2 separate regions of the Homo sapiens genome follow, and region 2 is linked to region 1. Evidence: fine-mapped expression QTL. A gene starts in region 1. The other region holds a variant in brackets. All regions are shown on one strand. Distances are between the middles of the regions. Region 1 holds the start of AMN (amnion associated transmembrane protein). Region 2 overlaps TRAF3 (TNF receptor associated factor 3).

What was found. PIP is the estimated chance that this variant, and not a neighbour inherited with it, causes the effect.
Region 2: its variant is the best candidate, but not a certain one, in a credible set for the expression of AMN in lung (TOPMed, PIP 0.51).

What each region holds. Positions count from the first base shown.
Region 1 is chr14:102,920,108-102,925,482 of GRCh38, reverse strand. AMN (amnion associated transmembrane protein) reads right to left here and starts at 2,820. Exons shown (of 12, transcript NM_030943.4): 1 at 2,752-2,820; 2 at 1,654-1,772; 3 at 1,504-1,548. The coding sequence starts at 2,794. RefSeq lists silencers at 1,035-1,233, 2,397-2,596.
Region 2 is chr14:102,864,022-102,869,396 of GRCh38, reverse strand. All of the region lies in intron 2 of TRAF3 (TNF receptor associated factor 3), which reads right to left. It also overlaps the pseudogene RNU6-1316P. Among named protein-coding and RNA genes, the nearest start is that of AMN, 56 kb to the left of the region's middle. The variant C/T (reference allele first, on the strand shown) is at 2,366.

The DNA of each region.
Region 1 (5,375 bases):
CGCCTCCCTCTCCCTGCCCTCCTCCTGTTTCCCGGGTGGGAGCGTCGCCATCTTGCTGTGGGTGCCCTCCCCAGTGTGTGGCAGCTTTTGGGTTAAGGCAGCTTTGGAAAACCTGAAGGAAGGAACCAAGCGGCCCTGGGGTGGAAATGAGGCCCAGGGTCCCTGACCCCGCATGGGGCAGGAATGGGCCAGGCCAAGCCCATTGAGCCATCCTCCCCACCCGCACACGCGGGGGCCCCAGGCCTGGACCCCACATCTGGAGCCGACACCCCGACCCAGCTCACCAGTGACCCTCACTCAGGAGTGACTGAGCTGGCAGGTGTGCAGGTGACAGGATGAGGACGCAGCCCAGGAGTGGCTGTGAAGGGGCTGGAAGGAAGCTTTTGCCCAGAGGCTTGGCCTGCAGGCCCCACAGTCACCCTGGAAGCTGGTGGGCTGCCGATGCAATGGGACAGTGGCCACCGAGGATACTCAACCAAGCGGGCAGGCTGTGTGCCAGTGAAGCTGTATTTACTGTCGCTGAGGTGTGAATGTCATATATTTTTCAAGTGCCACAAAAGATTGTTCTTTTTTTCCCCAACGATTACAAAGTGTAAAAACCGTTCCTTGCTCCACCCGTAGGGGCTGCATTTGGCCTGTAGCTTGCGGAACTCCACCTTAAACAAGGAAATTAGCTTCTTTCTCTGGGGCCTTATCAGAGCCTTTAATACGTGATGAAGCTCCAGGAAAGTGCAGGCTGCAGCATTTCCCAAACTTACCTACTCATGGAACCCGCTTTCCTCCCAGTTCCCATCATGTTCTTGGAGTGTTGTGTGAAGCAGTTTGAGAAAAAGGTCCCCTAGGGCAGCAGTCCCCAACCTTTTTGGCACCAGGGACCAGTTTTGTGGAAGACAGTTCTTCCATGGACTGATGGGAGTGGGGAAGGTTTCAGGATTAAGCTGTCCCATCTCAGATGTCAGCCACTTAAGGAGTGCACACCCACCCAGGCCCCTCGCTGGCGCAGTGACAATAGGGGTCCCTAGGAGAATCTGATCTGATCTGAAGGGAGGCAGAGCCAGGCAGGAGTGGGCTCGCCTCTTCCTGGGCGGCCACTTCCTAACAGGCCAGGGACCCGGATGGTGGGTAGAGGGGGGGGTGTTGGGGACACTTTCCCTAGTGTTCTAAAGATGGAGCTTTAGGCACCAGGACAAGGCAAGGCTTTGGGGGAAGGGCATGGAGCAGGCGCTTCCTGGGAAGACCACCCACTGCTGGGCATCACAAGGGCTGTGGGGACAGGGGTGCCTCCCATCCCTCCCAGGACACAGCCTGGCTGGGACCATGGGACCAAGCTCCCCTAGGTTCCCCCCCACTCCCTGCCTCCTAGAATATTCTCCAGAGGCCAAAGTCCCAGTCCTGCAGTGCCTCCATGCCGGTGGGGTCCGCCCTCAAGGCACAGCAGTCCCTGAAGGCGCTTCAGAGACTCTGTGAACCCCCAGCCCAGTGGCAGTAGCAGCCCGGCCTTACCATGTCTGAGACGGCGTGACCTTCTTGCACCAGGACTGACACCATCTGCAGGAAGAAGCTGCCTCAGCCGAGCCGGGAGCAACCCCCACCGGGGCCACACGGTCTCAGGGGTCCAGGCCCATCACCGACCCCGCCGGCGCTCCCAGGCACCTTGTCCGCCGGGAACTCAACGGCGCCGCCGGCGCACGGGGTCCGGTTCTGGCTCCAGTTGGCTGCGACGTCGAAGTCCGTGTTGGGGACCCAGAGTTTGGAGACCGCCTGGGTCAGTGCTGGGGAGGAGGCGACTGAGTGCCCGGGATGCTCTCCGGGATGCTCCCTTCTCAGGGAAGGCCACCCACCCAGAGAAGTGCGGAAGGTCCGCGCGGATCACCCGGGACGCATAGGAACCCCATCCCCGGGGGCCCGGACCCAGACCCTGGTCCCTCCCGGCCAGACTGTGGGCGCCCTGCCCGGGCGCTCTCCAACGGACTTCTACTGATACCTGCAGAGCCCGCTCAAACGCGCCCTGCAGGACGCCTGCCTAGATAGCCTCCCGGCACTGCCCCCAGTTTGCCTGGCGCTGGAGCAGAGGACAGCGTTGTTAAGGACAGTGACAACTGGGGCATGGAGGAGGATGGGGCAGCACAGACCTCTTCTCGGCCTTGGAATCAGGAAGGCTTCCCGGAGGAGTCCTACCTGGGCCGGGAAGAGCTGCGACAGAGCGCAACCCGGTATGAGAAGTAAGAAGGGGCTGGGGGCGGCAGGACCAGGTCAGGCCGGCCCTGAATGTGGTGGGTGGGGTTGTCCTGAGGGAGCCGCGAGGGGTTTAGGGAAGGGGGCGCCAGGGACACGCGCCGGCCTGGTGTGAAGGCGGAGGAGGGCTCAGTGCTCCCTTGGGGACCGGGAAGCTGAGGCGGTCTGCCGAGCCCCGCAGGCGCACACTCGCTGCTCTCGGCAGGTTCTGGGGACCGCGCCCATTTCGCAGACGGAAAAACCGCGAGGGCAGGAGCCGCCGGAGGCCGGGGCTGGCCGAGGTTCCCGGAGCCCCTCCTCTCCTCTCCCGCACCGCCCGATGCACTGGCCGCGCACTTCCGGGCTGCGCACTCGCCAGACGAGGGAGGCAGGGCCGAGTTTCACGCCCCCAACCCTCCAAAGCCCTCCCTGCCCACTCCTCGGAAGATCTTCACCCTCCAGGCCTAGAGCGACCTCGGCCCTGGGTCCTGACAGACCGCTACCGTCCGGGCCCGCACCGGTGTGGTCCCGGCTCACCGCAGAGCTGCAGCCACAGCAGGACCCGGCCCAGGACGCCCATCTCGCCTCGGCTCCTTGCACCCCACCAGGAGACTTTGCCCCACTGGACCCACGTGACCAGGCAGGTCGGGTGGGGGCACCAGGGTCGGTTACACATTTACCTCCAGACCCGCCCAGGGCCGACTCTTCAGGCCCCTGGGAGGCACCTTCTCAGCCTCCCCTTACCCGCCCCTGCAGGGCCTGAACACCTTAGGTTCTCAGGAAGAAGGGCAAAGAAGAAGGGCTTGGCGAGACTGACCTACCCTGTAAAATGGGTGTCTTGCCGGGAGGGGGAATAAACGACCTTTGAATTCACCCCTTTCTCTGTCCTGTGTGCTGCTAGGGCTGAGCTAGTCTGCTCACCATTGGAACTGGGTGTCCACTTCTCCACGCAGTGCCCCTGTCCCATGGGCTGTGGGTGGTGGTTGGATGATAGAAGGAAGATCCTGGATGGAACATGGTATGTGGATGGTATAGGAGGGTGGATTGTGGATGATGGTGGAGAGTAGTGGATGGTGAGTAGGGGACAGCTGATGGACAGCAACATTGATGGTGCATGGTGTACGGCATATGGACGCATGGCAGATGAATGGTAAATGGTTGACGGGGTGGATGGTGAGTGATAGAGGGTGGATGGGTGATGAATGGATGGATGAGGATGGTGAGTGAAAAATGAATGAATGGCCGGGCGTGGTGGCTCATGCCTGTAATCCCAGCACTTTGGGAGGGTGAGGCAGGCGGATCGCGAGGTCAGGAGATCAAGACCATCCTGGCTAACGCGGTGAAACCCCGTCTATACTAAAAATATACAAAAAAATTAACCGGGCATGGTAGAAGGCGCCTGTAGTCCCAGCTACTTGGGGGGCTGAGGCAGAACGGCGTGAACCCAGGAGGTGGAGCTTGCAGTGAGCCACGATCGTGCGCTGCACTCCAGCCTGAGCGACAGAGCGAGACTCCGTCTCAAAAAAAAAAAAAAAAAAAGGAAAAGGAATGGATGGTAATCAGGGAGTGGTGGATGGATAATGGCATAAATGGATACATGGCCGACAGGTAGATCATAAAGAGTGGGTGTTGGCGGGGCACGGTGGCTCACGCCTGTAACCGCAGCACTTTGGGAGGCCAAGGCGGGCAGATCACCTGAGGTCGGGAGTTCGAGACCAGCCTGACCAACATGGAGAAACCCCATCTCTACTAAAAATACAAAATTAGATAGGCATGGTGGCACATGCCTGTAATCCCAGCTACTTGGGAGGCTAAGGCAGGAGAATCGTTTGAACCTGGAAGGCGGAGGTTGTGGTGATCGGAGATCACGCCACTGTGCTCCAGCCTGGGCAACAAGAGTGAAACCCCATCTCAAAAAAAAAAAAGTGGGTGTTAAATGGTGGATGTTTGGTGAGTGATGAATGCTGAATGGATGGATGGTGGATGGTGAATAGATAGATGGTAAATGGATAGATGGTGGATGATGGTTGCATAAATGGTGAATTGTGGATGGAGATGGACGGTGGATAGTGAATAGATGGTGGATAGTGAATAGACAGTGGATAGTGGATAATGGGTGGATAGTAGATGGTGGATAGGATGATAAATGGATGGGTAATGGATGGTAGATAAGTAGATAATGGATAAATGGTGGATGATGGATGGTAGGTGGATGATGGTTGGTGGGTGGTGGATAATGGACAAGTGAATGGTGATGAGTAGATGGTGAATATTAAGTGGATGGATGGGCGGCAGATGGTAGATAGTGGATGATAGATGGTGGATGGTGGATGGTAAGATGAATAGTGGTTGGTGGATGGTGGGTGGTGGATGGTGGGTGGATGGAAGGATGGGTGGTGAATGAGTGAATGGTGGATGGTGAATAGGTGGATGGTGGATGGTGGATGGTGAATGGCCGATGGTGGATGTGAATGGTGATGGGTGGTGGATGAATGGATGGATGAATGGCGAATGGTGGATGGCAGATTGTGGATAAGTGGATGGTGGATGGATGGATGGTGGATGGGTGAATGGGTGGATGGATGAATGGTGGATGGTAGACAGTGGATGAGGGATGATAGATGAATGGTGGGTGGTGGATGAGTGGATGGCGAATGGGTGAATGGACATATAGATGGGTGGATGGATGGATGGTGGATGGTGGGTGAGTGAATGATGGGTGGATGGTGGATGAAGGGATGGTGGATGGTAGATGGGTGGATGTGTGAATGGGTGGATGGATGAATGGACGCTGGATGAGTGAATTGTGGATGATGGATGAGTGGATGGTGGATATGTGAATGGGTAGAGGGATGGATGGGTAGATGGATGGTGGAGAATGGATGGTGGATGAGTGAATGGTGGATGAATGGATGGTAGGTTGTGGATGGGTGGATGGTGAATGTGTGGATGGATAGATGGTGGATGGATGGATAGTGGGAGTGGATGGTGGATGGATGAATGGTGGATAGATGGATGGTGGATGTATGCATGAATGGACGGTGGATAAATGAATGGTGAATGAATGAGTGGTAGATGGATGGAAGGTGATGGTGGATGGTGAATTGGGATAGATGGGTGGTGCGTTATGAATGGTGGATGATGGATGGTGGATGGATGGA
Region 2 (5,375 bases), 56 kb after region 1:
GCCAGTTTTCCTTCCTCATTGACTTCCGCTAGATGAGTCTCAATGCTACAACTCAGACTGGCCTGGTCAACCTGCTTCTGGAGCCCAGGGGTTGTTCCTTCCTGGGTAAACCCTGTGACAGTGTGCCCACAGTACTCAAAGTGCTCAGTTTTGACATTCACCCTCATCTTATTAATCTAGCACCACCCTGACCCAGCATGCTGTGCACAGAGCTGTGGAGTGGGCCCGTTGTGGACCCACAGAGCACGTCACACCATGTCACACTGGTGAGGAGCGTGTGAGGGAGGTGCGGCTCCCTGTGTGCATGAGGGGGCTCGGGTTCAGGTAGGTGCCAATGTGCCCAAGGGCTGGGCTGGCAGAGGGGACACCACATAGGGCAAGTCTGTCTGCGCGGACTCTCTTCCACACTTGCTAACAAGGTACTCTTTAAGACTGGCTGCCTCCCACCTGCAAGTTCCCATCAACAGGTAAAGTAAACAGCTCCTCAAAATAAGCCACAAAGGTCCCAGCTTGCACAGCTCTGCCAGATGAGACCTCAAGATCAAGTAAATGAAAATAACCAGGAATGTAAAGGAGTTGAATCGAGTTCCTGAAGAAATGTGAGCTTTAGTAAAAATTACACCATGCACTCATAAACACACTAATGATTTGATCAATCATCCTAAATATTTGCTAACACTTACCTAAAGCACAAATTAAATGTTTCCAGATGGTGGTATAAAGTCTGGCTTCTCTGGTCTTTGTTTTCTGGATACCATGCAATGGCCATGCACTTCCATAATGAAAAAAACCTTGGGAATGTCGGCCAGTGTTTAGGTCAGCGTGTGCACCATGAACTTTCTTGGAAAAGTTTTTGCCCAGTGCCTTACGACCTTTACGAGGCTTCTGCAGGGCAGCTCCAGCACAGATGCCCTTCCTGTCTCTAAGGCTCAGCCTGCACCACTCCCCCACTGTCAACAGCCCCTGGCCAGCCCTGTACTCCCATGTACCTTGGTAAGGAAGGGAGTGGCTGTGAAGGGAGGTGAGGGACCCAGTGAGAACCAGACTCAGGAGCCTCAGGGAACACCGCTGCCTAGACCAGCCGCCTCACATCAGTAGCTGCTGCACTATAGGATTTTTCTTGTGTAGAGTTTCCCACCTCCATGCCTCCTCCATCCTTTCTCACGATACGGTAAGCCTCAGGTGAACAGAGGAAGTTTCTTTCACAACTCACCAGCTCCCTCAAAAATACACTGCGTTCCTGTACCCAATTCATCTATTTTTGCTACTTAGAAAAATAAGAGCCAAATTCCTTCCACCCCTGAGCTCCTGGGCATCCTGGGGAGGTAGTTGCTGGGTGGGCGGGCGGAGCCCTTGCTTCCGAGCCCCGTTCTTGCTGCCTGCATGAAGCTGACAGGCACATGAGCTGACAGACTCCTAGCCTGACTTTACAGCTAGAAGCAAACAGGAATGAACGCCGGCAGCAGACAATTTGAGAGATGGATGAACTGGCGTTCTAGCCACACTTGGGTTAGCTTCATAGAACATAACTGTGGCAAAATGTGGGAAATTACTTATTTGTGAAAACAAAGTTTTCAAAACATTAATGTTAAAGTATATGTATTATAGATGTCATTTGCTTACAAACTTGCCGGTCCATTATGATGCTCACTAATCTTTCCAAGCTAAGTAGCAAGGGCACCTGGTACTAGCCTTGCCCGCCAGGTAAAAGGGTTGACCAGCCTCGACCTGCAGCCCCCAGCCCTGCCTGCCACTCTGCTCTCCACACTGGCCTATTGTGCCTCAGAAGCTCTACGTTCCCCTAGGCCCACCCAGCCAGGCCATGGCTGAGCCTACCCAGACACATGCAGTCCAGCCCCCGACCTTCTCCAGGAGGCCACCCTCCCAGTCTCTCTCAACTCCCCCATACCGCTCTGTGCTTTTCCCCTGGCCCTCCTGCCACTAAGACTGCATGTAACTAAGTTTCTCCAGGATGCGTCCCCTAGATCAGAGAACCAGGAATTGGCAAACTACAGCCTGCAAATCAAATCCAGCCAGCAGCCTATTTTTGTAAGGTCTTTGAACTAAGAATGCTTTTTAGATTTTTTAAGTGTTATAAAAACAAAGACTAAGTGTGTATGTAGTCCACAAAGCCTAGGATATTTACTCTCTTGCCCGTAACAGAAAGAGTTTACCAGTCCTTGCTCTGGACTCTACATCTAAAGAGCAGAGAGGAGTCGCTGGTGTGTAGGTTGTACGAAAGGCCAGTTTTGTAAATGAGTGCCAAACTGCTCTCCAAAGCAGAGGTAACAACAAATACTTCCACTAGCAGCACAAGAATTTCTATGAAACCACACTCTCACCAACACTTACAGTTATCAGTCAT[C/T]TTAATTTCTACCAACCAAGGACTATGGTCTTTATGCCCCTTATCCTGATTAGAAAGGTTTGGCATCTTTTCATATGCTGAGAGGCCACTTGTTTTCTCTTCCGTGAAATGCCAAATTGTGCCTTCTTGTCATTGTTTTGTGTGTGTGTGTGTGTGTGTGTGTGTGTGTGTGTGTGTGTGTTTTCAAGAGATGGAGTCTCGTTCTGTTGCCCAGGCTGGAGTATAGTGGTGCCATCATGGCTCACTGCAGCCTCGACCCCCTGGGCTCAAGCAATCCTCCCACCTCAGCCTCCAGAGTAGCTAGGATTATAGGCACATGCCACCATGCCCAGCTAATTTTTTTATTTTTTCAGGAGCTGGGGGTCTCGCTATGTTCCCCAGTCTGCTCTCAAACTCCTGGCCTCAAATGATCCTTCCACATCAGCCTCCCAAAGTGCTGGGATTACAGGCATGAACCACTGCGCCTGGTGGTGTCATTTTTTTAATTGGGTTCCTGTCTCGTAATATTGATTTGGGGAGATTCCCCATCTATTTAATATGTTAACAGCTAATCCTTTGTTAGTTTTATGTATTACAGATGTCTTTTCCCTATTTATAGCTTGACTTTTTTTTAAATTATTATACTTTAAGTTCTAGGATACATGTGCAGTACATGCAGACTTGTTATATGGGTATACACGTGCCGTTGTGGTTTGCTGCACCCATCAACCCGTCATCTACATTAGGTATTTCTCCTAATGCTATCCCCACCCTCCGACAGGCCCCAGTGTGTGATGTTCCCCTCCCTGTGTCCATGTGTTCTCACTGTTCAACTCCCACTTACGAGTGAGAACATGTGGTGTTTGGTTTTCTATTCCTCTGTTAGTTTGCTGAGAATGATGGTTTCCAGCTTCATCCATGTCCCTGCAAAGGTCATGAACTCATTCTTTTTTATGGCTGCATAGTATTCCACGGTGTATATGTGCCACATTTTCTTTATCCAGTCTATCACTGATGGGCATTTGGGTTGGTTCCAAGTCTTTGCTATTGTAAATAGTGCTGCAATAAACATATGTGTGCATGTGTTTTAAAAATACGGAACTGCTTCATGAATTTGCATGTCATCCTTGTGCAGGGGCCATGCTAATCTTCTCTGTATCATTCCAATTTTAGTATATGTGCTGCCAAAGCCAGCACTATGGCTTGACTTTATTTATAGTGTCTTTTAATGAAGAGAAATCTTAATTTTATTAGGCCAGTCACAGTGGCTCACGCCTGTAATCCCAGCACTTTGGGAGGCTGAGGCGGCTAAATCACTTGAGGTCAGGAGTTCAAGACCAGCCCTGGCCAACATGGTGAAACCCCGTCTCTACTAAAATACAAAAATTAGTTGGGCATGGTGGCACATGCCTGTAGTCCCAGCTACTTGGGAGGCTGAGGCAGGAGAATTGCTTGAACCTGGGAGGCAGAGGTTTCAGTGACCCGAGATCGTGCCACTGCACTCCAGCCTCGGTGACAGAATGAGACTCCATCTCAAAAAAAAAAAAAAAAAAAATTCAGATTAACTTATGAGTGATGCTGATGAAAAAGGGACAATCCAATATATAAAAACAGAAAGCAGCTCTAATTCTATCACAGAAGCAATGTCAAAAGGAGGTGTTCTCAAGTAAGACTAGTAAATGAGCCACTATGTCAAATTGACAGACATTGCTCAAGGAAAATATGCTTTCTAAACAAAAGCTGAAGAAAGAAATGACACGAACCCTGAGCAGAGCCCAGCCGGCAGCCCCGTGACCTTCTATATCAATGAGGTGGCCACAGGACTGAACTGGCTCCTGGGAAAGCAGGAGACAGACACCTCAACAGGCACCAGAACCAGGGGATGGACAAGTCTCAGGTTTACTGATGACTCTTGACTCTCCCAGTGATCAACAGCCACCAAGAGCAGTCACTTCTGATCTGAAGTGTAAGAATCCCCTGATCACCTCCTGAAGCAAATAGGACAATAGACATGATGTCTTAAGTCCTCAAATAGGATATAAACACTTACCTGTCCTGTCCTGAGCAAAGGAGAGTTTTAGATTTAGGAAAACCAACACTGGAGACACATTTCTCACAATCAACTCAGAGGCAGACAGTAACAACCATCCCTACTGCTGGGCACTAACCTGGCATATCTCCCTCAGCCCAACGCAGTCATGCAGGAGAAGCCACGGAGGCGAATCTGCCCCAGGTTCCCCACCACTGACGTAACAGAGAGAGGGCAAGAATCTCAAGGCTGCCAAGGAAACATTTCTGTCTGTAGGATCAAGTTCTTAACAGCAGGGAGGGCAGTTTTTACTAACATGCCCTCAACCCAACAAATACTGACAATGATAATTTATTGCATCTCTTATGCTATTTATCCTTGTAAGCCATCTTAAATCTCTTGTGTAACCAAGTAAGGTGTACGTAAATTTGGCAACCTCGAAACTGATCATAATTTAATATGTCCTAAAATATTCAATTTAAATTATGACTAGTAAATCATGTCCACAAAAATGGCTGAGTAAGGAACTCAAAGTCCATCCTTCAATATACACATTTTAAAAACTGGCAAAAACTAGGCCGGGCGCGGTGGCTCACACCTGTAATCCCAGCACTTTGGGAGGCCGAGGTGGGCAGATCACGAGGTCAGGAGATCGAGACCATCCCGGCTAACACGGTGAAACCCCATCTCTACTAAAAATACAAAAAATTAGCCGGGCGTGGTGGCGGGTGCCTGTAGTCCCAGCTACTAGAGAGGCTGAGGCAGGAGAATGGCGTGAACCTGGGAGGCGGAGCTTGCAGTGAGCCGTGATGGCGCCACTGCACTCCAGCCCGGGTGAGAGCGCAAGAATCCGTCTCCAAAAAAAAAAAAAAAAAAGAAAAAGGCAAAAACCGTTAGAATCTACTATTTTAAAACTTTGGAAAACTAATTAAAAACTTGCAGCAATCAGAAGAATGCTTAATCAAGAAAAACCAGGTGAATCTCAGCAAGAACCGCGAGTTC